4 linked regions of the Homo sapiens genome follow. The protein of the gene in region 1 interacts with the protein of each later gene in a pairwise test. Each region holds a gene or a part of one and is shown in the gene's direction. Other genes may lie near its edges. The genes, in order: E2F3, WNK1, PKIB and RNF144A.

Region 1 (7,600 bases):
TTTTCAAGAGATTCTAATTATTGCACCCATGTTCAGATCTGAGACCAAACAGGTAATATGTGGTCCCCACAAATCCAGTTCCGCCCTCCCTGTTCACTCAACAGGGGAGGAAAAATAACAGGATAACCCAACGGGAACCTCCCTTCTGAAAAGGGGAAATGACATAAAGTGCTCACCTCCTGCTTCTTGTCATGTCCTCCACAGGGACAGCAGTTTGTAGAGCCTATAAGTCCACCCCAAGTTCCACCTCCTGGGAGGAATTCTGGGGCTGCCCCTTCTTCACACCTCACTTATTTCTGGCGTGGCTTTTGGACCTAGTGATTGATTTCCTTAGAGGTTCAACATCATGGACCTTCACTTTCTAGACTTAGTGATTCTTTCGCAATAAAAGTGCCTTGCAATTTTAGTAGCTTGTCCATCTAGCATTCAAATTTGGTCAATTTATGGTTTGGTGCTTAGTAACGAGAGTTACACATGAAGACTAGTCCCGGTCTTTCGAAGTTAAGTCTCAGTCACTTAGCAGCAGACATGGAAATTTCCCTAACCTACAGTTTAATGGTTCCATAGGCCTTTGCCTCATGGCAGTCTGAAACAGCAGCCTGGGAGGGAGAGATAAAACTAGTATGCCCCCAGCCTGCTGACCAGTGGGTGGTTCTTTACTGCTGAGGCACGGCCCTAGGTCCCTAGGAGTTCTGGGTCCCAGACTCTTTTCCAAGTTTGCCTTCTTTCTGTTCACTTTATTTTCATTTTTTGAGACAAGAGTCTTTCTCTGTCATCCAGGCTGGATTGCGGAGGCACCAACCTCCACCTCCCAGGTTCAAGCAATTCTCATGCCCCAGCCTCCCAAGTAACTGGAACTACAGGTGCATGCTACCATGCTGGGCTACTTTTTGTATTTTTAGTAGAGTTAGGGTTTCACCAGGCTGGTCTCAAACTCCTGACCTCAGGTGATCTGCCTACCTCGGCCTCTCAAAGTGCTGGGATTACAGGCGTGAGCCATTGTGCCCAGCCCATTTGTTGACTTTAATTTGGGCAGAGAATACAGCTCTATGTCTCCTTAGATTGCTTTCTGTAGAGAAGGCCTCCATAGCAAAGCTGTTTTCTTTGAGGCGGGCCAGCCTCAGATGAAGTTTCTCTCTATCTGTAGTATCTTCCTGGCGGTCACAAGAAGTGACCAACACACTCTGCCACTCTCTAACAAGGCCTGCCAACTCCCTGTCACACCATAGCCATCTTGACTCAGCCAGTTCCATAAGCTGTCACTGGCAACAGCACAATTCTAGGTTCCCGACTCAAAACACTTGAAGCAGCTGGGCACGGTGGCTCACGCCTGTAATCCCAGCACTTGAGGAGGCCGAGGAAGGCGGATCACGAGGTCAGGAGATCAAGAAGATCCTGGCTAACATGGTGAAACCCCGTCTCTACTAAAACTACAAAAAATTAGCCGGGCGTGGTGGCGGACGCCTGTAGTCCCAGCTACTCGAGAGGCTGAGGCAGGAGAATGGCATGAACCCGGGAGGCGGAGCTTGCAATAAGTTGAAATTGCACCACTGCACTCCAGCCTGGGTGACAGAGCGAGACTCCGGGTCTCAAAAAAAAAAAATGCTTTAAGCAAAAAGGAGAGTTTATTGGCTAATGTAACTGGAAAGTCTGGGAAAGACCAACAGTTGCCCCCAGGGCATGACCAGAGCCAGAGTTTTGAGTGGTGGTCTCAGACCCCTCTCTCTCCTTCTCTCCACTCTGCTTTCCCCTGGGAAGGCCCCATTCTCAGGCAGCTTTAGGCTCCTCACTTACCAACCTTACTGGAAAGACATACCTGCTTCTTGCCAGATAGTTCCAGAAACATTCCTGGGGTTAGCCTTTGCTCCTCCAGCCTTGGTCATAAGCCATTCAACCTGTTCGCGGTGGGGGCGGGGAGGGCAGGATGGGCCACAATGATTAGCCAGGCCTGGATCACCTGTGTGCACAGATGCGCTTAGACCAGGAAAGGGATGGCTCCCCAAGGAACAAACAGGGAGCTTCTGCCTGATAAAGAGTGAATGTTTGCTGGACCAACCACAGCAGGCCCACACAAGGACTTGACAGAATGGCTGGGAGGGGAAGATGAAGTCCAGCAAGCAGATTGTCCTTCCGGAGCCATTAGAATGATGTTTAACTTAGCACTGCAGTAGAAAGATAAGGTGTGCCACTGAGGCAAGCCACATCGTAAAATATATATATAAAGAAACAGATGAAATAATTTTAATGCTACATCTGACCCATTAACAACATTGGGGTTAGAGGTGCCCTGACACAGTCAAAAATTTAGATAGATCTTTTGACTCCCCTAAACTTAACTAATAGCCTGTTGTTTGGGGTTTTCATTATTATTTTAGTGATGGGGGGTCTTGCTACGTTGATCAGGCTGGTCTTGAACTCTTGGCCTCAAGTCATCCTCCTGAGTAGCTGGGATTACAGGTGTGATCCATGCACCCAGCCCTAATAGCCTACTGTTGACTAGAAGCCTTACCAATAACATAAACAGTCATTAACACATTTCATATGGTATATGTATTATATACTGTATTCTTACAATGAAGTTAGAGAGGAAATGTTATCAATAAAAGAAAGTTTGGAATGAATGAAAGTGGAATCCACAGGATAGATTTCCCTCATCAGCCAAGCAGGACTAGAGGTGAGGGTGTGTGAAATAGGCCGTGCTGGGCAGAGCTGGGCTTTGCCTGAGTGTCTTACTCTTTTCCCTTATGATCTAAAGCCAGGTTTCTCCAACTTTAAGGTGTATCAGAATCACCTGGAAGGCCTGTTAGATTGCTCAGCCCCATTCCCAGAGTTTCTGATCCAATGCATCTTAGGTATGCTCTGGAATTTGCGTTTCCTAGCAGCTGAACTTGGTCCAGGGTTCAAAGTGTAGAAGGCATATGGGCATATAAAGCAGCTGGATGAAAAAAAAATCATAAGGAAGAGAAAATAGATTTACTATTCATTACTGGAAGTGGATCATCATAAAATTCATCCTCGTTATCTTCACATTGAGGAAGGTGTGGTGAAAGAAAAGAGGAGGGGTTGGTCTTACTGTCTCAGGGATGACAGAGGAAGAAGAAAACCCACATATAGGTGGACACACTCATGGCCGGGTGCAGTGGCTCACGGCTGTAATCCCAGCACTTTGGGAGGATGAGGCAGGAGGATCACTTGAGCCCAAGAGTTCAACACCAGCCTGGGCAACATACAGAGGCCCCATCTCTACCCAAAAAAAAAAAAATTTAAATTAGCCAGACATCATGGTGTGCACCTGTGGTCCCATCTACTCAGGAGGCTGAGATGGGAGGATTCCTTGAGCCTGGGAGGACAAGGTTGCAGTGAGCTGAGATCACACCACTGCACTCCAGCCTGGGCGGCAGAGCAAGACCCTGTCTCTAAAAAAATAAAATCAGTGGAAACGGACAGTCCAAACCCATGTTGTTCAAGGGTCAGTTGTATTTTATTTATTTCATTTAACATGTGATCACTACTAAAATTGTTGAGATATTTTACCCTGTTTTGTACTAAGTCTTCGAAATTCAGTGTGTATTTTACAATTATAGCACATGTCAGTTTGGATGAGCTAGTAACCAGTGGCTATCGTAGTAGACGGTGCAGGGTTAGCTGGTAACTTTCCATAGAGGGGCTGAATATCTAGCTTCCGCTGATAAGTTATTACTTACGTTTTCACATCACGGGGAGTTGTTTTGAAATTGCAACTCTCGGCTGGGTACAGTGGCTCACGCCTGTAATCCCATCACTTTGGGAGGCCAAGGTGGGCAGATCACCAAAGATCAGGACTTCGAGACCAGCCTGGCCAACATGGCGAAACCCCGTCTCTACTAAAAATACAAAAATTAGCTGGGAGTGGTGGCGTGCACCTGCAGTCCCAGCTACTTGGGGAGGGCTGAGGCAGGAGAATCACTTGAACTCAGAGGCAGAGGTTGCAGTGAGCCAAGATCGCGCCACTCCACTCCAGCCTGGGCGACAGAGCAAGACTCTGTCTTAAAAAAAAGAAACTGCAAATCTCCTCATTAGAAGAATCTGCCTGAAAATGAGCCTAAATACATATTTTTGTGCTGAGTGTCCAGTTGGTGCCATTTATTTTCTAAAACACCTGTCATACCCATACAATTAGTACTTAACAACTGCTTAACCATCTATCTTTTCTCTTGGACTCGAAGCCCCTTATCTATCTTGCTTACTAAGCCCAATGCCTAGGTACCTAGAAGACGCTATGTGGATATTTTAAAATTTAATTGGAGTTAAATTAAAAACTTAGATAAGGGCTTCTCATTTGCTAGGCTTGATAAGAAAATGGAGAAAGTAATAGTGGTTGAAGCCCAAGATTGCATGTTTGCAGTATTTGTTTTCCCGATGAAGGGCCGTTTGTAGTCTGTGACTAGTTGTGTTACGATCCAATCACCCTTTCTCTCATTGAATATACAGTATATAGAGAGAGTGATTGAAAATCTACAGAAACCCAGGCTCTGTGCCAAGCACTGGGTATACAAAGATAAATGGGAAACAGTCCCTGCCTTAAAGGAAATGAGAAACAGATAAGTCTTACAGTAATACCGAATAAGTGTCATGATACAAATAAACACAGAGTGTTTGGGGAGCACAAGGAAGGGGGTCCAACCCAGGTCGGAGAATGGGAGATGGGCAGGAAAGACTCACTGTGGAAAGGGAATTTAAGCCCCACGGCGCCTGTGATATTCTTAGCATCCAACCCCATGCCAGGCACATGATGTGTTGAATCAATGAACAAAGTGACTCCTGAACCTAATGCTGAAGGATCGCTGTGTTTGTCCATCTGGGTGTGGACGGATGATCACGGCAGGTGAAGAGAGTGTGCATGACAACCCAGCCTACAACGCTAGAATCCTGGCTCTAGGGAATGACAAGATGCTGAGTGGGGTGGAGCAGAGGGGTGAGAGCTGGCATGAGCCTGCAGCATTTGGCAGGCCAGCCCACAAACTGCCTCCCTTCTTGTTCTTGTCCATATGACCGGTGACGAGAGATCGCACTTTCTTATTACAGGCAAAGCGAAGGCTGGAGCTAGGAGAAAGCGGTCATCAGTACCTCTCAGATGGTTTAAAAACCCCCAAGGGCAAAGGAAGAGCTGCACTACGAAGTCCAGATAGTCCAAAAAGTAAGGATCTTTTCATCTCTTTCCTTATTCTCCTTGGTATGGCATTTCCAAGTTTCAAAGCTTATGGCCGGAAGGATGCCAAGGTGTGAATAATTCTGGCATGTTTTGTTCTTTTTCATTTCTTTCTGTGCTTATCCAAAAAAATAAATACAATGTCAGCAGACAACCAGTGAAAGGCTACAGAGTCACACTGGTACCATAAGGGAAGACTTCTTTTAACTGTATGTAGTTTCATTTTTCAACTCGGAATACGAACTTTTGGCACCATTCTATATCAAATTTAATTTTAACTTCCCTTAATGGACATTGCTTCAGAGTCTGAGGCAAACTGGATGTCCACGAACTATGCCAGAGTCACCAGTGTCTGTGCCGACCTCAATCTCCAGCTCAGCATATGATAGCGTAAGAATTGATTGAGCCCGATAAATTGCAGGCTGTTTCTCTTTCTATCAAATACTATTACCGTTTCTTGTGGGAGAGAGAGAAACGTAGGTTAGAAATAGCCAACTAGTCCCATTATGTATGTGTTTGCATTTAACATAAGGGCTAAATTAGACTTTGTTCTCTCTCTTCCTTTAGTTCATGCATTAGGCAATCCACAAATTGTGTGACACTAAATTAAAACCTTGACCTGTGCACCTATGGGGGAACAAGTACAATATTAAGTAAGGAAATTTCCTTTAAGAGAGATGGGGAGATTTGGCAGAAGACTTTTCCAGGTAATTATTTATCAAAATGAAGCATTGTTTGGAAAATTGGTGAACAGGTGATACACGCACACACAGATACCAGAGCCTGAAAGGCCATTTGAGATGGGTCTGTTTAAGACCTTGTCCTGCAGTGCTAGTGAGACTCATAGCCTGGCTCCATCACCGTAGGCCTCGTGTGTGCTGGTCCCCTGAGGCCACAGCACTCTTTCATTCATTTGACAGATATTTTTTAGCGCCCGCTATATGTAAATTCTTCATTGGAGCCAGGGAATGGTGTAAGTCAAGGTAGAAACTCTTGAGAAATTCAAGGTGAAATGCTTTAATCAAACCCTGGAATTTTTACCTTCCCTTCCTGCTCTAATAAAAAACTTTCATAGCTTTCTATGACTTGCCAACACCAACAGCAACGACAGCCTTGCTTCAGATACTAATACTTTGGCTGCAGTGGGAAAGAGAGCTTGCTTGACTGCAAAGACACCCTTCATTTCTTTACCTTTCCCCCTATCCCCCACCCGCTCGGTTTTTGTTTTTCTTTAAGCTCCAAAATCTCCCTCAGAAAAAACGCGGTATGATACGTCTCTTGGTCTGCTCACCAAGAAGTTCATTCAGCTCCTGAGCCAGTCACCCGATGGGGTATTGGATTTGAACAAGGCAGCAGAAGTGCTAAAAGTGCAAAAGAGAAGGATTTATGATATCACCAACGTTCTGGAAGGCATCCACCTCATTAAGAAGAAGTCTAAAAACAACGTCCAATGGATGTGAGTAGGAGTCCTCCCCATGCCCCGGCTCTGAGGGGGTCGTTTCAAACTGCCTGGTTTCTTAGTTCCTCACTTTCACATCCACGCCCACACGTTCTTTTCTTTTCTCTCCTACTGTTTTCTTCTCTCTCATTCTCTCTTCCCTCCTCAGCTTCTAAGCCAGAAGTTTGAAGTCTCTTTACAAAGAGACTTTGTTTAGATACTGTCAGAGATAAAAGGATTTATATTTGATGAGCATCCAGCAACGGCATCCTTAAAGAGGTCCCTGCAGTTGGAAAGTGGACTGCTGTTCATCTGTTACATAGATGTCTGTGTGCACCCACGTGTGTATCTGACAGATGTGTACACGTCTTCAGCTTGTTTCTAATAAGAATCTGGAAATGATGGCTTATGGGTTATCTATGTGTATACGTACAACTGCATAGTTACAGAATATCTTTATCCATGGTTCTAATAGCAGATTAACTCACTTTCTGGGTAAATTAAGGCAAGACTTAAATGCCTCCATTTCGTCTGTAGAGCAGGGATGGTAGCATGATACTTATACAGCCACACGTATGATTACATATGTAATATATTTTGTGAATTTTAGAGCATCTAAATAGCCACTATAAGCACAGTATTGAATTATTAAAGCATTTTGGAAGGAATAATTCTGTTACAGGAGGGCTTTGAAAAGATACTAATTCAGATGGAAGATGAATACATACCTTTTTTTGCACATTTTGGAATTTTGTTGACAGTTTGGTAACCCGTTTTGGCCTCTGGTTTAGAGAAACATATTGTGCACTAGTCTCAGTTCTTGCATACATCACATACATCTGTTTCCTTTACTTTCTTTTCTTTTTAGTTGTTGATATAAGACCCTCAGTAATTACCTGAGTTTTTGATGCTTTTTTGGATGGGTTGTTTTTTTGTTTTTTTTTTTTTTTAATTTTGAACCATTCCATCTTCTC
Region 2 (8,418 bases), on another chromosome or scaffold:
AACTTGAGCCTTTCACTTAATAGTTATGGCACCACATACATATTTCCCTCCTTTTTTCCTACTGTTGCATGGTGTACCCCAAACTGGAAATACCATAGTTTAGCTATTTTCTTATTGATGAACATGCAGATCATTTGGATTTTTTGTTACAAATAAAGCCATAGTGAAAGGTTTTATGTTTTGTTTTTGTTTTTTAGAGACAGGGTCTTGCTCTGTCACTCAGATTGGAGTGCAGTGGCGTGATCATAGCTCACTGCAGCCTCGACCTCCTGGGCTCAAGTAATCCTCCCACCTCAACCTCCCAAGTAGCTAGGACTACAAGCACACACCACTGCACCTGGCTATAGTGAATATTCTTATAGATATTTCTTTCCTTTTTTTTTTTTTTTGAGATGGAGTCTTGCACTGTTGCCTGGGCTGGAGTGTAGTGGCACAATCTCGGCTCATTGCAACCTCCACCTCCCGGTTCACGTGATCCTCCTGCCTTAGCCTCCCGAGTAGCTGAGGTTACAGGCACACACCACCACACCCGGCTAATTTTTTGTATTTTTAGTAGAGACGGGGTTTCACCATGTTGGCCAGACTGGTCTCGAACTCCTGACCTTGTGATCCACCCGCCTCGGCCTCCCAAAGTGTTGGGATTACAGGCGTGAGCACCCACCCTCTTATAGATATTTCTTAGGAAACACGTGCAAGTATTTTTCCAAGGTAGGTACCAAAAAGAAAGAAAAAGACGATGCACATTGTACGTTTTAATAATTGCTAACAAATTGCCCTCAAAAAAGCTTGTACCAATTTACCGTATCATTAACAGCACGTTTCTCCACATCCTCGCCAACACTTGATATTATGAATCCCTAAAAATTTTGCAAATTGCCATGATGGGGACACTAAAAAAAAAAAAAAAAAATTTTTTTTTTTTTTTTTTTTTGCTCAATTTAGACCAGGCGTGGTGGTTCACGCCTGCAATCCTAGCACGTTGGGAGGCTGAAATAGGAGAACTGCTTAAGTCCAGGGAGTTCAGACCAGCCAAGGTAACATAGTGAGACTTCATCTCTACAAAAAATTTAAAAATTAGCTGGACATGGTGGTGCACACCTGTGGTCCCAGCTACTCGGCAGGCTTGAGCCTAGAAGTATGAGGCTACAGTGAGCTGTGATTGCACCACTGCACTCCAGCCTGGACAACAGAATGAGACTCTGTCTCAAAAAAAGATAATTTTTCAATTTTATGAGAGAAAATATTATATTTTAATCTGCATTTTGCTAGTTACTGAGTTTCAGCATCTTTTTCATGTCTATTTTTGTTATTTGCATTTACTGCTTTATTTTATTTTATTTTTTTTTCTGAGACACAGTCTCGCTTTGTTGCCCAGGCTGCAGTGCAATGGTTCAATCTCGGCTCACTGCAACTTCCACCTCCTGAGTTGAAGCGATTCTCGTGCCTCAGCCTCCCGGGTAGCTGGGACTATAGGCGCGCACCACCATGCCCGGCTAATTTTTGTATTTTTAGTAAAGACGGGGTTTCACCATGTTGGCCAGGCTGGTCTCGAGCTCCTGACCTCAAGTGATCCTCCCACTTAGGCTCCCAAAGTGCTGGGATTACAGGTGTAAGCCACCATGGCATTTACTGCTTTGTAAATTATCTTTTCATATCCTCCTTTTCTATACAGTGGTTTGCCTTTTTCTCAGTGATTTAAGAGGGTTTTTTTCCCCCCATATCTTTTGGATATTAATCTTTTGTTATACAGTCTCCAGAGTTTTTCTGGCAGTTTGTCACTTGTGTTTTGTTGAATAGATTATCAATTTTGATATTGTCAAATATTTTCCTTTGTGGCTCTTGGATTGCTCTTTGAAGCCCTTTAGTACCCTATGTTCTCCTACATTTAAAAAATTATTTAGAGATATTTTTTAAAAGTTTGGTTCTTCAATTTATGTGGAAATTAATTTTGTGAACAGTCTGAAGTAAACACTGACCTCATTTATTTTTCAAATGAATAACTAATTGTCCAAGCACTGTTTATTATTTTGCCCTACTGACTTCAAATGCCATTTTCTATATGAAATTCCCATACATACATGAGACTGTTTCTGTACTCTCTCTTCTGTTCCATTGCCTATGCTTATCTCAATACCATATAGATTTAATTTTATGGTTTTATAATATACTTTGATATAGGGAAAATCCCACCCCCTTTATTTCATTTATAATATAAAGTTCTTAAAAAACTATTCTTCATTGTTTATCTGCCTGATTCTCACTTCCTACTTCCAGATGACAGGGTTCCAGACGACAAAGAGGTAAAATAAAAATTACCCATAGGCAAGACAAAGGAGCATGGGAAAATGAGGGAAAGGAGACAAAAAAAAAAAAAGAGAAATGCTCTTAAGGTGGGACAATTTTTCCCCTACACTTCAAGAAGCAACTTTATGTATCAATATTTTGCCACATTCAAAGTAAGGTAGATTTTGTGTGTTTAGGATATTTCAGCCACTGTCTAAATCAAAGGTGTCTCTGACTTTCATTGCTAGCTAGTTACCAATGGCAGAAACCATGTAAACAAAAAAATGTGAATGGAAGGGAATAGAAAGAAACATGAATCAATCAATGTGAGAACATGAACAAGAACTAGAGAGAATAGAGACATGGTGAGACAGAATAACATACTTGTATTCTTCTTGTGGAACCAAATGTAAGGAAGTCAAACCTCTGAGCTTAGTGCATTCATTGTATCCTGGGTTCTTTGTTATCTCTGTTTACAGTCACTTGATGTTTTATATGGAACATAGAGAGGTTGATTCTTTACTGGATAATTGAAGTGACAGAGAAAGGAAAAGTACTATTAGGAATTATAGTAATGAGTAACAGAAAATACCATTTACTTGGAGGTAGGTTGGTAAGCATTAAAAAGAACTGAGTGAGCTGGGATCAAGCCACTGTACTGCAGCCTGGGCGACAGAGTGAGCCTCTCTCAAAACAAAACAAAACAAAACAAAAACTGAGCAAAAAAGTGTTTGTTAGTAAAATACGCACACTAAATAATATAACCTTTAAATCTAATCATTGTACATAATAAGATTATATTCAACTTAAAATTGTATCTGTTTTCATTGTAAAGCTAATATTACACAAGTGGGAAAAGCTGTCTCCTAGGCAAGTGTGGTTTTAAGTCAACAGTTAATTAAATTACTTACAATGAATTTAGTTGTTCCTGGTTGAAAAGACATGTTGATAGGGCATGGTGATTATCAAGGGACTTGTGTCCAATGCAGTGTGGCCAAAGTTTCAGGGCTCAGTAAACAGGAACAGGCAATAATAAAATCCTTTAACAACCACTCACACAAAAATATCCTAATTTTTTCATGGTGCCAAAAGGGAACATTGTGATTTACTGATCTTCTTTTAACTTGCCAATTTGTAATTAGCTGCCTTATGTTTAAAATCAGACTATTTTTCCTAGTGAAGCAACAATTGGGTAAGTTTTATTTTACTCAAAAGTACAATAAAAATGTATTTTACAGCCATTTCTTCCCTTGCTTACATTAGGTTTACGGTTAGAAAAACACTCTTAATTCCATTTGCCATAATGAGATTATTTACCATTACCAATAGCAAACGAATGAAAGATACATTTTCTAAAGCAATGGAACACTAATATTTTAGTACTCTAGTTGTCCCTGCTGAATCGGCATTTTAAAATGTTCGTAACCTGTCAGCTTCATGAAACCTAACGATCATTGGTTTAAAACATTTTTGTAAACTTGAAAGTGTAGCTTGTGATAAACAACAAAAAAAGAAAGAAAAGAAAAATAGGGTTAAGTATTTTACGTATCAGATGAATTAACATGAACTGCAGGGCAAGACTTCTGTAGGTGGAGCTCATCCGATAACTGTGCTAAGGAACCTCCTGCCGAGTTCCTTGCTAGCTGCTCGCTCGCAGCGTGGTCCTCGGCCCCGACGCGCGCTTTCGAGCTTGTTCCGCAGCGGGCGCTGAAGAGAGGCGGCCGCGTCCGGACGCTCTGATGCGGTTGCGTACGTTTTCAGCGCTTCCCGCTCTCCACCGGTTGGACTGAGGCTTTTAAACTGCAGTCTGCTCCCGAGTCCGGCTTCCTACTCGGTCTGGTGCCCCCTGGTGCTCGTCCCCTCCACATCTTGAGTAGTTGCGAAGAGCACAGGGGTCCAGGCAGACAAGGATGCTTTCAAGAAAAACATTCCATGGCGGCAAGCCGCATGGATCCACATTTCCCGGGCCCAGAGCCTTTGTAGACATTGCATGTGGACATTCAGGAGCTCTAGAGAAAGAGGGGGTGTTGTTTCACGAAGCCACCAGCAGAAGAAAGGTGGAAAATAAGTTTCAACCAACTACAAAGGCAGAAGTCAGCCCAGCCCCCCAAGTGTGGTCAAAGACCCATAGATCCGTAGACCTTATCTTTTCTTGAATCCACCGCTCCCCCAACCCCCCTTTTATTATTTTTCAGACAAAGCAAAGATAGAGTTCACTAGGATCCCCGATTTCAGTAAGGCAGCCCTTTTTTGAGAGCCAGAATATCCGTCTCGGCCGGGAGCTGAGAATGTGGCCTTAATTGATGAGGGGAGGAGGATGGAAGGTAATCCTCCGTGTCTCCTCCTCCAATCCGTTTAATCAATATTAATTTCATGCACAATCTTCACAAAGTTTCTTTTCCCCTCCTCCGACTCAGAGCTCAGGCTCCGGTTATCCTGCTTTGCCCTTCCCTTCCACCCTCACAGCCCTGCAGTCACTCAACACTACTGAGGCTCTCTCCATTAAAGATGAACAACAGATCATTTTTCATTGCATGGCAACCCTAAGAGCTCTCTAGCTTAGCAGAGCATGATGGGAGTCTTTCCATCCCCCCCCCCACCCCCCGCCCGCTCGTTCCTCTTCTTTTTTTTTTTTTTTTCCTTCCTTTCCTTCTTCCACAATTAATCCCTAAATAATGATTTTCCTAAGCTCGCGCGGACTTCGGGATGGGGTTGAGCGACCCGTGATGACGCTCCCATCAGCCTTTCAGAAGGGACGGTTTCCAAAGAAAACTACAACTCCCACGAGGCATTAGGCTACAGCAACCGCAAGGCATCACGGAAGTCGTAGGCACTTTTCTTCTAGGTCCCGTTCATCCCCGCCAACCCGTAAACTATAAGTCCCAGGGTGCCTCGGGGCTAGCACGCCTGCGCAAAAGCCCCGGAGCGAGTTGGGGGGTGGGGCTGCTCCGGGCGGCGGGGGGCGGGATCCGAGCGGGCTGTGTGGAGGCTTCAGACTCCCGGCGCCATTTAGCGCGGAGAGTTTCCCGGGTGGACGCGGCTCCTCTCTCGGCCACTCCGCACCCCCATCTTCGGTGACAGAAGGCGCCTGGTGGGGGTGGCTGCTCTTTTCTCTCCCTGTTCCCCCTCACCCAGTCCTCTAGGTCTCCTCTCCTCTTGCCTCAGAGAAGCAGCGGAGCTCGGGCCCCGCGGTGAGCGGCCCTCCCCTCCCCGCCGTTCCCTCCTCCGTCAGCCCCCGGCACCGGCCCGGGAGGAGACGGGTTTGCCAGGCCTGGGGCGGGCGGGGAGGCCTCGGGGAAGGGGGGGCCCGCTCCTCAGGCGCCGAGGCTCCGAGGCTCCGGCCCTTCGCCTCTGGGCGATGGGCGACCTGTGAGGCCGGTCCCCATCGCTGGGGGCGCGTGTGGGAGGAGGCGGCCGCCCGAGTGACCGGGAGCCGGGCCGCGGCCTTCCCTCGCCCGCCTCGGCCCCTCCCACTCCTCTGCCCCGGGGCCGCCACCGCCCGGGCGTCGGACCTGGTCCCGTGCTCGCGGTGCCGCCGCCCTCTGGGCCTAGCCCGCCCAGCTCGGCGAGCGGCGGCAGTGGGAGCCGCGTCCGCCGCATCCGCCTCGACTCGGTGCCGGCCCCTGGCCCTCCCCTCATGACTGCGGCGCCTCTGCTGCCACCGCCCGCCCGGCCGCCGCTCGCCGCAGGATGGATGCGGACCGTGCGGCGCTAACCCCCGTGGCTCAGCTCCCGAATCGCCCGCCTTCGAGCCCTCCTCGTGAGCCGCAGCAGCCTCGGTGCCAGCCCCCGCCGCAGCTGGGCCCAGCGGTCCGCCTGTCCCTCGTTGCGGCTTGTCGGTGCTGAGTGAGGCGTCGTCCGGGTCGGCGCGAACCCGCCCGGCCGCGGTTCCCTGCAGACCTCTGCGCGGGCGGCTCGGCCCTTCACGCCCTTTTCGTTCACGAATCCGAGCCCGCTCGCCTCTCTCCAGCGAACCGACCATGTCTGGCGGCGCCGCAGAGAAGCAGAGCAGCACTCCCGGTTCCCTGTTCCTCTCGCCGCCGGCTCCTGCCCCCAAGAATGGCTCCAGCTCCGATTCCTCCGTGGGGGAGAAACTGGGAGCCGCGGCCGCCGACGCTGTGACCGGCAGGACCGAGGAGTACAGGCGCCGCCGCCACACTATGGACAAGGACAGCCGTGGGGCGGCCGCGACCACTACCACCACTGAGCACCGCTTCTTCCGCCGGAGCGTCATCTGTGACTCCAATGCCACTGCACTGGAGCTTCCCGGCCTTCCTCTTTCCCTGCCCCAGCCCAGCATCCCCGCGGCTGTCCCGCAGAGTGCTCCACCGGAGCCCCACCGGGAAGAGACCGTGACCGCCACCGCCACTTCCCAGGTAGCCCAGCAGCCTCCAGCCGCTGCCGCCCCTGGGGAACAGGCCGTCGCGGGCCCTGCCCCCTCGACTGTCCCCAGCAGTACCAGCAAAGACCGCCCAGTGTCCCAGCCTAGCCTTGTGGGGAGCAAAGAGGAGCCGCCGCCGGCGAGAAGTGGCAGCGGCGGCGGCAGCGCCAAGGAGCCACAGGAGGAACGGAGCCAGCAGCAGGATGATATCGAAGAGCTGGAGACCAAGGCCGTGGGAATGTCTAACGATGGCCGCTTTCTCAAGTTTGACATCGAAATCGGCAGAGGCTCCTTTAAGACGGTCTACAAAGGTCTGGACACTGAAACCACCGTGGAAGTCGCCTGGTGTGAACTGCAGGTAAAGCCCCACCTACTTTATTTGACGGTCCTTTGGATCCCAAATTTGGCTCGGCGAAGCCAGTTGATCGAGTTCACCCTTCACTTGGCATTCTCTGTTGGACTCCGAGTGGGACGGGGAGGCCAACTTTTGAAAGGGGCTGAAATTAGGAGAATGTGGAGCATGTGCCTAGGTGTTGGGATAGGATAAGAATTATTGGTAGCCAGAGGGATTTGCTACCGGGCAGCGGTGGTGAAGGTCATCTTAGTACAAACGAATTGTCTCCTGGTTTAGAGTCTGGCAGGAAACTTGGAATGAGTGGGGAAGTTGAAAGTACAGATGCTTCTTCTTCTGTGCATTTCAATCTCATCAAAGGCTCTGCAGTGATGAGCTGCGTCTGGGTGTAGAAGCGTGTTTTCATTCCTGAGATCAGGCTGTTCTTTTTAAATGAGAACAACCTTGTACCTTTGGATGTATTTTGCTTGATGGTTGCACAGGCATTTAGTATAAAATAATTATTAAAAAAAGACTCTTCTCTGCCCCTTTTGGATGTTTGATGTTGTTCTACCTAATGATGCTTAAGCCTTACAGTAGCAGCATTGCTCTGACGTTCATTAAACTAATGTCTTTCAGCCCATTCACTATACAGCGAATAGTATAGGAGCCCATGCAAAATTGTGTAAGTGCTTTGAGAGTCGTAATGTCATCATCATTGTTTTAATCTTATAAAATATCTTTAAGCTGAACTTTCCCAAGAGTCCGAAGGAGTCGCAGCACTTCCTTTTTTAACCTCTAGTGGTGTAAATAATGGTGTGTCATTCCGGTTGACTAGTACATTCTAGGTTTAAACAGCTGAGTTTGGGCTACTTGTTGCTTGACTTACTGAAGCAGCTTGCTTAAATATTGCCCTGATTGGGCATAGGTGAACATAGGTTATTAGTAGGAGCAGGTTTATGCTGAAGGAAGTCAGCCACATTATGCATGCATAAAAATTGCCATTATTGATATAGTAATCTTGCCAAGAATATAGACCAGCCTGATACAGGATATGAAAATAACTGAATGATCTTGGAACTTATTTTATCCATGAACTAATATGTTAACACGTAACCCTTTGAATGTCAGGTTCCAAATAACTAAGGCCATATCAAATGTGAAATTAACACAGCATGTGGAAGTAAACTTAAAAACTAAGAAGTTCTTTACAAACATAATCATTTCTTAACTTTTACAGTTAATGATGTAGAACTTCTAAGGTAGTGTGAAATTAAAACTACTCATTAATTTTATAGTATTTTAGAATTGAAAAGGTGACAGATCTTTAAAAAAAAAAAACCTCGTCAAACGAAAACTGTTCATTTTGGTCAGTCATATTCAAAAAACTTAGTCTGGGCCAGGCACGGTGGCTCACGCCTGT
Region 3 (7,600 bases), about 100 Mb from region 1:
ATGTTTTTTAATGCTAAATGAGCATGAATCAGGCTTAATCAAGACTAAATTTTCATTAATGTCAATTGAAAATGAGAAAGCATGCAGTTTGAAAATTGTATTTTAAGTGTTGAGACTTAGCCAGCTCTGAATGGCTGGACAATAAATTCGGTGGTTTTCCATTTCTTCAATGCAAAATTTTAATTGAGTTAGAAAAAACAAAATTATTCTTTCCTCAACATCAAAAATAAACTATACGTCTTGTGAACTATATGTCTTGTGATAAGCATTGTTAATCATGATTCCATATAATTATTTTAAATAATAATTAAGCATATTCTATTAGTAGATTTAGGGATCTAAGGCCCAAGAGTAAGTGATTTCCATATACAAAAATCACATATTAGACCAGGGCTCTGGTTTTCCTGTTTTAAAACTTCCCCCATTAGTACATGTTCCTCTAAATCCTGTTAGTTTCAGACATTTTCATATGTTATATGTACTTTAAAAAAGTCATTACCAGGTAGTGACATTACATGGAAATAATCTAGGTTAAGCACTTGAACATCCCCATAAAATCAAAGACAGCTACTATTTTTTATTTTTATTAGAAGTACAACTGGTTTTGGCCCTGCGTGGTGGCTCATGCCTGTAATCCCAGCACTTTGGGAGGCTGAGGTGGGCGGATCACAAGGTCAAGAGGTAGAGACCATCCTAGCCAACATGGTGAAACCCCGTCTCTCTAAAAATACAAAAATTAGCTGGGTGTGGTGGTGCACACCTGTAGTCCCAGCTATTTGGGAGGCCGAGGTAGGAGTATCGCTTGAACCCAGGAGGCAGAGGTTGCAGTGAGCTGAGATGGCACCACTGCACTCCAGCCTGGTGACAGAGTGAGACTCCATCAAAAAAAAAAAAAAAAAAAAAGAATTACAGTTGATTTTGAGAAATCAAATGGATATGCTACTTTTTACTGAACTGAGGTACACTTTTTATTCTAGCAAGTGGCAAATAGCAGTATTATGTGCCCAGAGCAGAGTGGATTTGTGTTCTTCAGTCACTCCTAGTTGTAAAAATGTGACATTGCCCAAGAGTTGGGTGCTTGGTTGGAGAAGAGAGTTCAGAGATGTTTAGATAAAAATAAAACAATCTAGATTTGCATAATTTCCTGAACGGGAAGAGGTATTCTCACCTAGAATCCTGGATCTGTTAGAAGTAGGATTTCTCAGATTGGAAAGAGGGCCAAGGAAATGGAGATTCTTTAAGACAATGTGGTCTGTAGCCAAGATAGTTTTAATGTAATTGAAGAAGCAGCAACAGAAGCATCTACAGACAATATGAATGGAGCTGGATTCCTTCCTGTACCTCCCAGACTCTCCCTTCCTGCAGTCTCTGCTTTCTTCTAAGCACTCTTATTGGCTATGCTGTTGAAAGTATTCTTATCCCCGTGGGGGTGTGGGAGTAAGCATCCCCATGGGGGTGTGGGAGTAAGTAAACTGTAGGCTTTCTTTTTTTTTGGATAAAGTAAAGGGAGAACTGAAGTCCAGTGTGATAGCTTCAGGAATAAAACCATGGAAGACAGGAAATAATTAGGTAGTCTTCTCAAGCATGCTTATATTTTAATGGTCACAAAATAATTTATATCTAGATTAAATTTTATGGATTGAGCTAATACATCTCAGAAGAAGAAAACACCATTCTTAAAATTCTTAAAATCATAAAATCTTAAAATCAGTGTGTGTGTATGTGTATGTGCATGTGTGTGTAAAGAGGGCTTACAACTCATGCAATTACATTAGTGTATTACATTAGTTTATTTTATATTTTAAAATGAAAATAAATACCTCTACCATGGAGCTTCTGGAGCCAGGTATAATATTAAATTTTAAAATGCTGAAATAAGCCCTACTTTTCTCACTTTTCCCAAAAAGGCCTTGAAATCTAATGAAAAGCCAGATTATAGGTATGGTGGATTTTGTTACACTCCAAGGGTTTGCAAAAAGTCTATCAAGCCAAAATTTATAAACGCCAGGACTTCACAGAAACCACTCTTCTTTTCAGTTCCATCATCCTTGAAGAAGGGTGTCTATGATAATTCTGTGTATTGTAGTGAAGTAGTAGAACTTTTTGCAGTAGTGAAAAGAAAAAAAAAATTTTTAAATATGTCTTTCTAACATGCCATGAAGCTGTGCATATGTATATACTGTTGTAATCCTGGGGAGGTTTCATCTGAAGGCTACTGGAAGGACTGCTCTAGTAGGCCAAGCAAGAGATGCTGAATGAGTCAGGGCAGCAGAATTAGGGATGAGGAAAAGTATTCAGATTCTAGAAATATTAGGAGATGAAAATAATTGAGTTTGATGGTAGTTGGGATATGAAGTTAAGAAGACATGAGAATGAAGAGTGCCTCTCAGATTCTTGGCTTGAAGTGAGAGCTGGCACAATTTACAAACATGCAGGTTTAAGAATGGGGCGACTTCATGGGTGTACTGAGTTGGATAATGTCTCCCCAAAATTCACGTCCTTCCTAGAATCTCAGGATATGACCTTATTTGGAAATAGGATCACTACATATGCAATTAGCTAGGATGAGGTCATACTAGAGTAAGGTGGGCTCTTAACCCAATATGACTGGTTTCCTTATAAGAAGAGGCAAGAGACACAAAGAGAAAGACACATAGAGGGTAGACAACATGACAATGCTGGGGGAGATTGAAGTTATGAAACTGTAAACCAAGGGATGCCAAGGTTTGCTGGCAACCACTAGAAGCTAAGAGAGAGGCATAAAACAGATTTCCCCTCTGATTCCACAAAAATGAACCAACCCTACTGACAGTTGATTGGATTGCTGCCATTCTGAACTGTGTGAAAATAAATTTCTGTTGTGTTAAGTCACTCAGTTTGTGGTAATTTGTTACAGCAGCTCTATCAAACTAATACAGTGGGTGTGAGTAAAAGATACATTGGGGTGAAGATATCCAAGAAGCTGTTGTATAACAAGCTCAGAAGATGCAGATTGAGTTGACATTGGCATGCAGTAGGTAAATATAATGATGAGATCTCCTATGGGAAGCACATGGAATCAGAAGGAAAATGGGAGAAAAATGAATCCTGGGAAATGAGTTCCAGTCAGAGCCCAAGAGGAGAAGCTGGAAAGGGCATTGTCATAGCGACAAAGGTATGTAGAGCTTCAAAATGTGTGGCATGATCAACAAGTCATAGACATAAGAGGACATAATAGGAGAAGGGTTGAAGGGACTTTTGTTTTGACAAGTAGAAAGCAAGAGTAATGGCTTTATGATTGGAAGGTTGAAGCCAGATTGTGCTGCGTGAGAAGGAAATGGAAAGTAAGGAGATAGGATCAGCTAGTGTCCAGTAGTCCTCCCAGGATTATAGGTGAAAGATGGAGGAGACGGTTCGGTATGCAGGGAATCACGCGACACAGTGTCCAATTAATTTTTGTTTAATATTTAAAGGAAAGCCTTTGTCCTATCTTTAGGAGTCATTAGTGTGGGAGAGGCTGTTAAGTATAGAAAAGACAATTTATGGAGCTGCTTTCCAATAAAGGGGATTGGGTTAAGGACGAAAGTGGAGGCCTTGAACATACAATGTTTTCAATCTGTAGTAGAAGCTTGAGATGTTTTTAAGGGTGAGTAGTTTTTTTTTTTCTTTCTATGGAAATAACTGTTATGCTAAGAGAAAGGAAACTACTGTTTATTGAGCAATCTGCCAGACCCCTAGGGTTGGAGTCTGGTGGATTGATCAATAAATAGTAATTTGTAGCACATTTTCACTAATTTCGTTTATTCTCCAATCTGTGAAGTCAGTGTTACTGCTCTATTTTTTAAGACGAGTAGGCAAAGAGAGTATCTATTCAAAGTCATTTAATAGAAAGTGGCAGAGCTGAGATTAAAAGCCAAGTTTGATTGATGCTTATTTCTTAAATCTACAGCCTTTCTACCCTTCTAATTTGAGCTCAGTAAAAATGCCCAGCTAACTCACTTATATTGGACCTTCTTAGCCAGTGGCTGAGCACACACTCAGGTCTCATTCTCAATATCCCTTGTAAATATGGCTGCAAAGAGGCAACAGGTTAATGGGTATTGCATCTACCGTATGCACTACCTAATGTGGTCAAAGTTCTACACCTCTGAAATCAAACAGTCATTTCAGGTTTTTCATTTATTTGTCCCTTATGGATTCAACCATGTGGAAATACGGGGTTGAGGGGAGCCATTTTTATTTATTTCCCTCAGGGAGTGGTGGAGAAAGTTTTTAGGGGAAGTGAGGAATACTTTTCTGGCACGGTAGATCTGGGTCAGCTCCCTGAGATGCTTGTGGACTTTTGCCAAAGAATATTAAGCTTCAAGTAAAACCCAGCATAGTTTGTTTCAACTCTGAGAAATTCATATTTTGGGTTCTAGGTTTGAATGCTTTGAAAGGAAAAATAAACCTTTCAGTATTCAGTGAAACACTGGAGGAAACAAAACATTGTTTTTACTCATAGATATTTATTTTTACCAACTCTTTAAAAAAGTATTTTAATTTATCCCAACTTGATGAAAACTTTTCATATTTTCTTTCAATAATATTATTGGTCTTAATTGTCAGTTGATTTGTTTTCTTTTTGTAGGTTTTTGTTTTAATATGACTCATCTGAAATACGAATTAAGTTTGATGACAACAGTTTAGGTTATGTCTAAGTATATCTAGAATTATTTTACATAAGGACTGTTAAAAAGATTTACTTTATTAAGTACATCAAGATGTTTTTTATTTTAATTCTCACATGCATCCATAATTGTTTTAATATTGGGTATCTTCCAGTTTTTGTACATTTGTAAGGATGTTTTTTACATTAATGTAACAATGGTGTACAGTTTGTATCCTACATTTCTTCCTCTTAAAATTACTATTGCCAGTGTAAAAATGAGTAGAAACAGAAAATTAAAGAAAATAACATTTCTTAAAAGAATGTATAGTATCCTATGAAACAGTTTTTGGTTAGATAAAATTTCAGATCATAAGGATAGGAAACACTTTCTAGTTTGCTGAAAGGCTACATTCTAATTTCACTGCACCCTGTGGTAATCATTGATTTAACTCAGAAATGAGAAAACAAAATAAAAGAGAAACATACCCAAACGATTAAAATTCATTACTTTAGCTATTAGCAGTATTTGAAAGTAGAATTCAACTTTTCAAGGGCAGTATGTGCTTACTGTTATAAATTCTTCACCAAGAATCACAGACATGAAAATACCCTCAAACATCTTTTTCTTTCTTTCAGTCTCATCTCTTTGTCAACCCTTTATCATTACATAATAATGAATTATTCCACATGTTACTTTCTGGGCAAGTAATGTTTTCCACTTAAAATACTACCAAGTCCTAACCTTTAACATTTTTTAATAATGTTTTAGAGATAATATACGTTGCAATGAAAATCAGAAATTTCAGAATAGTTTTAAGAAAAAAAAGGTCTATTTATATTTGATTTGTCCACTAACTAGAAGTAATCACTATAAAATTATTCTTTGCATACACATAACTTTTTAAAAGACAAAAAATTATCATATCATATTCCCTGTTTCCCACTTAATAAATCATCTTAGTATAAATTACAGTTTTTTAATGGCTCCATTAACTAATTTTCTGGTGACGCTACAGAAAGTTACCAAATTCAGTTTTATAAACAATAGCATAGTAGATAACTCTGTTCATAATTTTGATACATCATATACACCTATTTGATTAATTCCTTTGAATAAATTTCTAGACATAGAATTGCTGCATCAGAGGATGTTAATTTTTAAAGAGTTTTGATATATTTTACAAAATATCTTCAGAAAGCCTGTGCAGTTTACATTCAAAATAATACTTTTACTAACATACTAATACAGTTTCAAAAATTTGAAATTTAGAAATCAGTGGGAAAATATAGCTACATTTGTATTTCTTTGATTGGTAGTGAGGCAGAATATTTTTAGTTATTTTTATGAATTGTTATTTTATATTCTTTGCCTGTTTTTTCAATCTGTTTGCAAGAGCTTTTTATTGATAAATATATCAACCTTTTGTATGTCTATTTTACAAATTTTAAATGTTTTCTTTTTACCATTAATGATTTAGGGTGCACTGCTTTGTAGGATACTTAATTTTTTAAGGATGTCAAAGTTATCAATCTATTCTCACGTAGTTTGTGAAGTTTAAGATGGCCTTTCCCACTTGTAAAAGTATTCACCTACATTTGCTTTTAGTACTTTTTACATCTTTTGTTTCTATTTAAAATTTTAATCCATTGGCAGTTATTTTAGTAAGAAATAAAGTGGGGATCTTACCTTATTTTATTATTATTTAATGGCTAGCCTTTTTTTTTTATAGCTATTTGTCCTATAATGGATTCCCTCCCCATTGATTTGAATAGCATCCTGTGCCTTCTCACCCCCGCACCTGCCTTGGAACTTACCTTTCTCATAGCTGTCCCACTGTTAGAATGCGTTAGAATGCAGACATGACTGCAGGCTCTTTGACTGCTCCCCCTTCATCCACATCTGCCACTCACAACCTGAGCCCTAGAAGGAAAAAAATTTCTATAACCCTTGTCATAGCATCCAGCTTTCCTAAATTACCACATTACCAGTTTTGGAACATATAATTTTGTTGGTCCTGAAAAACAGCTAATTTTCAAATGCTTCAAAGTCTCTGATTTTATCATTCACCTGCTCATTTTTTCTCTTTGTGTTGAAACTTTGTTATATGTTTTGCTACCTCCCCCTTGACCCAATGTCTCCTTTGTATTCTTCCTTCAAAACCATTCCATCATGCTACCTGGAACAACTGTTCAATAATAATAAATTAATCTATATTATTAACTTCCACCTTTTCCCTTAGCCCTGAAGCTTGACTCTCCCCTGGGTATCTTACTTCTCCTTAAGCCCTTCCTATTGGAGACTGTTTATTATTTTCAATTTTATAATCTCAGAGTAGTAGAGGGGGGCACATTCCCTTCATGCCCCCATATGCCACCTGTACAATATTTTTCCACCCTCTTATACTCACTTCCGCTCCTTTGAGCACTCTGGCTATACCATCCTCTACCGTTTCTCATTTCTATCATCAATGCTGAGGGTTTAGCACCTGAACAAACCCCTCCTGTTCTGAACACTCTAGTAATTGGTGTACAGTCATCTTCTCCCATCCTTCTTCTGTCCTAAATCTGGTGCCTTCCTATGTACATCCAATATCGTGACCTCTCACTTACCATGTGGTCGTGTGTGTTTTTTTGAATTCCCAAATGTATTCAGAAGAGAACCTAGTTAAAGAAGCACAGACTCAGAAGTATATAGAGCCGAAAAGCTCATTATAGACTAAGAATTCTCTCTTGGTTTCTTAACACAGATAGGCTAATAATTCAGCTTTCCATTGATCAGAATTTGTGTTGCTTGGTTTAACTTAGACAATCGTTTACTGCTAGTATCAAAATATTTGAGAATATTGTTGCATAAGCATCTGTGTAGAATCAAGAAGTTCCACACAAGGCATGAAAGTGGTTATACATGTCTAGCTCCTGAGGCGGTGAGGTAAGAGGTTGAGTGGCTTTGTGACACTATGCCTGGCTGCT
Region 4 (7,600 bases), on another chromosome or scaffold:
GGGAGCTACAAGCTACGTTGCCTGCCTCTGAGAACATTCTTTCCCCTGTGGTCCACCACGTGGCCCCACTGCCTACTTTTGTTCACATTTCTCCCTCCTGGAAGCCTTTCCCTCTGGGGGTAGAGATGGGAAGGAAGCCTGCCCTTGGAGACTGACAATCACAGAACCAGGTGGGCCAGCACCCACCTGGCCTATGAACCCTTGTTGTAACCATGGGAACCTCGTAGCTTGGAAAGGAGGGGTCAGGTAGCCCAGGCCACATGAAAAGCTGTGGCTGGTCCAGCCCTGGCATCAGCTTTTCTGGTTCTGTCTGCTGTCCCTTTTTTCCCATACCTCACTTGCAATAGAAGAGGATGAAGCCGTGCTCGCTGCCCTGCACGTTGGGTGGTCTGGAACCATTCAGGATGATATTGAGCCCTCAGACTCTCTTAGAGCAAGGAACCCCTGGCTTCACAGGATGTGGGATCTCAGAGGCAGCCCAGAGGCGGGGAATGGAATGGAGTGCTTCTAAGGAAGAGGGACTCTCCGTGTTTTCTCTGGGGAATTTTCTAACATTGAGATCGAAGAATGAAGTTGGAGGTGCCTTTCTTTTCTTTAAGAAGTAATCATTTCCAAGACTAGCCTCCTTTCTCCGTTGTTTCTGCATTACTGAAACACATGAATACCCTTTCTTAGTTAGATGAAGAAATTAAATTGAAGCCACTGCTCACATACCTGCTGGGTAGTGGGGCTGAAGGATAGAGCTTATTACAATTTCCTGACCCAGCTGTCTGGCCCTGGGCCAGCGTCTTAACCTCCCTGGATGGCTCCAGTTTTTTGAGGATAAAACTGAGGTGTTGGTGTAAATATTTTCCAAGATCCAGAAATAAAAATGTACTGTTGGATCATATTTTTTTTCCAGGAGAATAAATATTACAGGACGACTCACCAAGTACAACCATTCGTAAGGGTTTGTTTGTTTCCCAAGAGAAAATATTTTAACTTTCAGAAGAGTGGATTTTTTCCAAAGTGAAATGGTGAGAAATGAAGCTTTGAGGAGGGTGGCTCATTGCTGATAGGAGCCTTCACCTTGCTTCACTCCACAAATAACCCAAGACCTGAATTTAAAGGTGCTTACTTCCTGGATGTTCCGTAGAACTGGAAGGCAGGCTTTCTCTAAGGAGCAGGCTTATAAGCTGGATGCAGTGTTCCAGACAAAAGCAAGCTCCTTGGTGGCATGCAGTGTGTCAACCAGTATTTTATCATCTCAGGTGTGTTTGGCACTAGAGGTGGAGGAGGTGGTTGATACTCATTATGGATTTGCCTGATCTTCAGGGCTTTGCTTGCATCGTGGATGCAGTTCTCACACAGCCCTGCAGCACAGGCGTATGTTGCTATCCCTAGCTGACAGAGGAGCAGAGTGAAGCAGAGAGCAGGGATGTTGTCCAACATCGCACACACGTCGTCAATTTTGAAGCCTGGCTTTGAACCCAGAGGCCTGCAGATAAGGATAGATCCCATGACCTTGAGGAGGCTGTAGTCTAGGGAGCGGGAAGCTCAAACATTAACAGATTGAACCGTGGGGTCAGGGCAGCATGGGAGGTCAGGGCAGAGAGCAGTGGGACCCACAGGAGGGTGCCTGGATCAGCCCCGGGTGGCAGGGAGGCTGCCTGCTGGGGCGATGCTGTTGGTCTGGGATGGGAGGGACGGGTCAGAGTTAGCTAGGCAAATTAAGAGGGACAAGGTCACATTCTGGGCCTGGGAACAGCAAGAAACAGCCTGGGGTGGACAGGGAACTTAGGACCAGCACACAGGGCCGAGCTCCCCAGCTGCCTTACCATTGGCCTTTTTAGGGTGGCTGGTGGTCTCTGAGCTGTTTGGACCCAGATTTCCGTGTGTAATACAGCCGCTTTCATTACTGGCATCTCCTGGAAGGTCCCATCAGTGCATTTTCCTTTTCACTGTTTTGTTTTGGAGCGTCTTTCCCTATCTGTGTTCCCTCCATTTCCTTTCCTCCTCCTCCAGTTCTACCTGGTGGGAGAGTGAGTTCAGGGAAAGATCAGGGGAACCACCCATAGCGACCATTGTTTTTACAGTCAGTCACCTTGCTCCCATGTCTTCCGAGTGACCCATAGTTGACTGGGGCCAGCGAACTAGACATTAGCCCCGTGCATGTGCTGGATATGGCCGTGCAGGCTCTGGGGGCTTCTGCCTATGGGAGCCTGTGGGAGCAAAAGGGAAGGGTTCCAAGTCCTGAAAGTGGATGTTGTCAGAGTCTCTTTATTGATTGAACGGGCTTTTGTGTCTGTCCAAGGACTGTGCACATCTCTTACAACATTGTGTTCCTGGGAATACTTTTTAGGTTTCCCAAGAACTGCTTTCAGGTAATTCTGTGGAGCAGGGCATGTTTATTGTTGATGCATGGTGTGTTAAGGTCCTCTGGAGGGCAGAGGAGTGCAGAATGCAGCAAGCTTGACTGCCTCCTGCGAGCCATGCAGAGGGGACCCGCCCGGTTTTTCTTGTTTTTCTTTTTTTTTTTTTTTTGAGATGGAGTCTCACTTTGTCGCCCAGGCTGGAGTGTAGTGGTGCAATCTCAGCTCACTGCAAGCTCCGCCTCCTGGGTTCACGCCATTCTCCTGCCTCAGCCTCCCGAGTAGCTGGGACTACAGGCGCCCGCCGCCACACCCTGATAATTGTTTGTATTTTTAGTAGAGACGGGGTTTCACTGTGTTAGCCAGGATGGTGTTGATCTCCTGATCTCATGATCCGCCCGCCTCGGCCTCCCAAGGTGCTGGGATTACAGGCGTGAGCCACCGCGCCCGGCCTCCTGCTTTTTCATAGTGTGTCTCAGACTCCAGGGTGTGTCACCTGGCTGGTGATCTGGTGGGTTGCAGGAGTCCCCTCTGTGCACCCTCCGTCGCTGACTGGTCTGCAGCCTCCTCTGCAAGTTTCCAGCATTCTAGAGTGAACTCTCTGATGTCTGCACCACCTGCTCGACCCCTGCTACAGCCTCTTCAGTGAGGTCTGCCCATATCCTCTGAATGAAAGGGGGCCTGCCAGGGAGGCAGCAGCGCTTCCTCATGTCCCCATTTGGGTGGTAGGAAGTGTTCCCTCCACAGAAATACTCAGATGTCTGCATGAAGGGACTCTCTCCTCAAGTTCAAACATTCACTGAAACGGAAATGCGCTGAAGCTGGAATCAATGCACACCTTTTTTTTTGTTAACTTTCTTGGGAAGCTTGTGTGTTAAGCCTGTCGGTGTCTGTTAACACTTCTCTATTCAGAGACCTCCAGCCACGCTCGTTGCCCAAGTTACCTGTGAGCCCGCGGGTTGAGTGTTCAAGCCTCTTCCTGCCTTGGCTCCAGCCTGTCTTTCCAGGGCTGATCTCAGCAGCTGCTGACGTGTGCCCTGGGACGCTCTCCCACCATCCATGTGCCAGCTTCCTAATGATTCTTGAAGGCTCATCACAAATGCTGCCTTTCCTTCCAGCTGTAAAATTGCCAATGTGGGTGACTGTGGAGATGCTCTCCTCTGACACTGGCATTGCACAGATGAGAAGATGGAGCCGCACGGAGCAGAACTGGGACGGAGTTAAAGCTCCAGGGTCCAGGCCAGGTCCTGCAGGCCCAGGTGCCTGCGTTCTCTCTCGTCTTCCCAGGCACAAATGTTTTCCCCACCAGGTGCTTCCATAGCAACTTTATTTTTTTTTTTCAGAACCTGTAGTTGCGTTTAAAACTCTCTAATCCAATTTTACTGATTTATGTAACCATCCTATTTCCTCTGCTAAATTATAATCTCTGCACAGGTAGGAACTTACTCATTTTTACATTCTCTCAGTGCCTATCATGCTCTTTCTGAATGGATTTTTGTTAAGTGATTGAATACAAGATAGAGAAACCTGGTTCAAGAGGGAAGCCTGGAACAGATTATGAATGAAGAAATGGAATTCGAGTGTAAATTCTGTATTCCATCATGATCCGAGTAAACCAGGTTCTCTCTTTAGGTCAGGTCACAGAACAATACACCTTAAGACCCTGAGAAGTCAGATGGGAATATTTGCTTGGGTTTAAGAGTGAGGATGGTAGAATGTAGCCTGGTGGCCTGGAATGCAGAGAGAGAATCCTGGGTACCGTGGTTGTGTAGACACCATGTAAGTGAGATCCAGAGTAACAGCTGGCGAGACTTCCGTGGCCGTGTTGCTGGGGGGCCCGAGGCACTGTGCGATGCACGGGAAGCATAGGACGTGGCCTTTGCCTGCGATGTGAAGGGAGATGCATAATGTGGAATGGTTAGAACCAAGCGCCTGAATGTGCCCATCCGAGCGCATGTCCTGGGAGTCTGGTGAGGAAGCGATTGTGGAAATGGGACTCAGCATAGGTGGGCTTTGGAGAGCTGGGGAGTGTAGAGAAGGGGGTGCTCTGAGCTGTCCCAGAGCAGGGCAAAGACCCAGGACGGGCAGGGTTTGTTCTGGAGGATGCTGAGGAGACAGGGCTGTTGGATGAACGCTCAGGAGCAGCAGAGGAGGGGCCTCCATCTCCCTTCCGAGTGCGGGCCTCTCATGAAACACTAGGATGCTTTCGCCAGTGCCTTGGAGGAACTTGCCAGGTAGGGCCCCAGGGCCAGAGATTCTTGTGGTTCTTCCTGTATAAGAGTTGAAGAAGTGCAACTGCTAAGTGTGCTGTGAAGTGTGTGAGGAGCCATCCTTTGTGTTCACTGTATTCTCTGTCTCTGAGGAATCCGTTTTCTGAGTAACTTATGTGCCCATGGTCTGTGGTGCCAGTTGTGCACTCACAAGCATAACACAGGCTGTGTGCTCCAAGGGAGCCTTTGCTTTGGGAAGGGTGTGGGCTTCCAGAGACCTTGGGGCTGGCTCTTTGACGGATGGAGAATGTCAGGAAGCACCTGGGTCCTTCTGTGAGTTTTCTGGCGACCTCGATTGCCACACGGCGAATTTTGATAGCGTATGCACTGGAGCTTTGTAGCCTAGGGCAGTGGCATCCAAAGAGCTTCCAGGAGACTTTCTGAGTTGGCACCTTAGATCTGAACTCTCTTGACTAAAACACTTGCATTTCCTTCTAACCACTTGGCAGAAGTAAGTGATTGTAATCCCTGGTGTGGATGGGATGGGGCTGGCTGTATCCTCACAGATCTCACTCACAGATTGCAGGCCCTTCTCTCTTCTTCTTGTCTCAGTGAAGCACTATCCAAGGCCCTGAAAACTGAGCCAGTCTGGTCATTGGTGGCCGGCAGAGTGGTGGATAGGGCCAGGTGTATTAGGAAAAAGAAAAAGAAATCTCTTTATTTAATCCATTGTGAGACACTAAGAAACCATCTGTGTTTCAGCTTCTGTCCTCCCCCTTCCCCCCCAGTTGCTCTCTTTACTTTCTTCTTGTTATCATGTGTAGGGGTGAAAGTGGCCAGATATGAGAGTAAGAGTTCCCATTTATCCAAGGACAGAAGCAGGCAGGAACCTCAGGATCTGATGTGGGCAAGCCGCAGGTAAAGGGCAGGTTCAAGGCGCAGAATACAGGTAGATGATTCTCTCTGATATCTGCCTGCATCTTCATGTGGCTGTCTTCTCTGTCTCTGCGCTGGGGGTGCACCTCTTCTCACAAGGACTTCAGTCATGTTGGATTAGGGCCAAGCCTGTTGATCCCATCTTCTCTTGATTGCATCTGCAAACACCCTAATAAGGTCACATTCATAAGCATCAGGGGTTAGGAGTTCAATATATCCTTTGGGGGAGACATGATTCAACACACACGTGTGCGCACACACACAAACACACACATACACATGCATCAATACACACAACACATATATATGTACCAGTATCAGGCATAGTGTTTGTTTGTGTTTGGATGTGTTAGCATATGTTTGGCCAGCAACATAGCACTTACTAACAAGGACTTAAACAGCTTTCTGTTTCCTTAATAGCAAGGCACTGAAGGTAGGTGCTTGCTTCCAGGTGCTGGTGCAGCGGCTTGGGATGTTACTGAGAGCCAGGTTCTCTCTTCTTTCACTTTGCCATCCTCAGCATGTTTTCCTTTGCCCCATCATGCAAAAGGGCTGGCCACAGCTGCGCCACATCTGTGTTGAAGGCAGTGAGAGAGGAGGGGGAGTTGGTGTCAGCTGCATCTGTCCGTTTTTGTCAAGAAGCGACAAGCTTTTCCAAAAGTTTGGTGGCTGACTCTGTTCAGGGCCCAGTGCCAGAGCTGGGCTGCGTGGCCGGCTCCTGGAGAAAGAGAAGGAGAGAAAATGAGGGTCTGCCTGGGAGGTGGTCCTGGAGGACTGGACTGGTAACACATGCGAGAGAACTGCCCCGTGCAGGGGTTGGCCGTGCTAGGCCTTGATAAAACTGCCTTTCCCTCTCTTACCTGCTCTTCCTGGCAAAGCAGGAGCCCATATGGATTAGGCCCAGAGCCATATGCATGCGGCTTCAAGGTTGCAGGTGTGGGGCTATGCACACCTGTGTGTTCCATCAATAGGTTCGGTGTGGGTACAGTGTGGGCTGGGAATCCCAGTCCTGTCCTGGTTGTCTTTGTACCCCTCTAGCACTCGGCACACAGGCTTCTCATAGGAGGCGCTCAATAAATATTTGTTGAAATGAATCTGCGTCTTTTCCCTTCAAAGACATTTGAGTCCAGAAACAGCCACATTCATTCACTATAATATTCATGAATATCTTACTCTTTATTTCTATTGTTGTTGTTGTTTATTTACTTTTGTTCTTTAATCCATCATTTGGCAAAAACTACTTGGTACCAGGGATTCAAAGACACATTGAGGACTATATAGTGAAGGTGAGGACTTGCAGAGAGGAAGGGATGGGGCAGAGCGGGGGTGCCCTTTCTGAAACAAGGGAGAGTTTACCGTTCTGGAGTCCACATGGCAGGGATTCATCTCTTAAACTTGCGGTACTTTGTTGAGTCCAGTTTCACTGTAGTAAAAACAACCAGAACACATAGTAAGCCCTGTTGGTCCCGTGAGATTGCCTGCTCTTCACGTCTCCTGTTTGTGAAATAGCACAGGATTTTAGGTGCAGGGTTTTTCATATGCCGAATAAATATTTGTGTAGCCTTCACTCTAGGCCAGGTACTGTGCTGTCAACTGTGAAAGCCTGAGTAAGACTCAGAAGGATGTGTTTGCAGCTCCTCCTGAAAGGAATGCACAATTTCTGCCTGCTGATTGGCCGAGGGAAGCATTTCTTATCTGTTAATACTTTAATCACTCCTGGGACTCTCTCCCTTTGGCCTGCAGCTCTGCTTCCTTGACAGTGACCTTGTTTTTTTTCTGTCCCTGGCCATGTGCAGTGGATCCAGCCTTTCCTCGGGAGGACCAGCTTGACTGTGCCAGCCTAGGCGACTGATCAGGGCCTTGAGCTGTGTCCTGCTGGCCTGGCAGATAAGGGCTGCTTTCTGGAGGCAGGCAGGACTTCTTCCTTGTGTAGCAGAAAAAACAGAATGCAGACAGGTGGAGGGGAAGCGAGGACCTGAGCCAGGCTGTCCTCTGCGGTAGCTACTGGCCCTGCGGGGCCCTGGAGCCCTTAAATTCTGGCCAGTCCCAATTGAGCTGTGCTGTCAGTGGGTTTTGGGTGTGAAAAACAGAATGTAGAGTACC

What was found.
Region 2: the proteins of E2F3 (region 1) and WNK1 interact in a two-hybrid assay, tested with the Homo sapiens proteins (one study listed by BioGRID).
Region 3: the proteins of E2F3 (region 1) and PKIB interact in a two-hybrid assay, tested with the Homo sapiens proteins (one study listed by BioGRID).
Region 4: the proteins of E2F3 (region 1) and RNF144A interact in a two-hybrid assay, tested with the Homo sapiens proteins (one study listed by BioGRID).

What each region holds. Positions count from the first base shown.
Region 1 is NC_000006.12:20,474,782-20,482,381, forward strand, and holds part of E2F3 (transcription factor E2F3), read left to right. Parts: intron 1-5,064; coding exon 5,065-5,176; intron 5,177-6,424; coding exon 6,425-6,644; intron 6,645-7,600.
Region 2 is NC_000012.12:747,303-755,720, forward strand, and holds the start of WNK1 (serine/threonine-protein kinase WNK1), read left to right. Parts: upstream 1-5,276; 5' UTR 5,277-6,263; coding exon 6,264-7,022; intron 7,023-8,418. UniProt on the Homo sapiens protein: Serine/threonine-protein kinase component of the WNK1-SPAK/OSR1 kinase cascade, which acts as a key regulator of blood pressure and regulatory volume increase by promoting ion influx.
Region 3 is NC_000006.12:122,613,078-122,620,677, forward strand, and holds part of PKIB (cAMP-dependent protein kinase inhibitor beta), read left to right. Parts: intron 1-7,600. UniProt on the Homo sapiens protein: Extremely potent competitive inhibitor of cAMP-dependent protein kinase activity, this protein interacts with the catalytic subunit of the enzyme after the cAMP-induced dissociation of its regulatory chains.
Region 4 is NC_000002.12:6,920,120-6,927,719, forward strand, and holds part of RNF144A (E3 ubiquitin-protein ligase RNF144A), read left to right. Parts: intron 1-7,600. UniProt on the Homo sapiens protein: E3 ubiquitin-protein ligase which accepts ubiquitin from E2 ubiquitin-conjugating enzymes UBE2L3 and UBE2L6 in the form of a thioester and then directly transfers the ubiquitin to targeted substrates.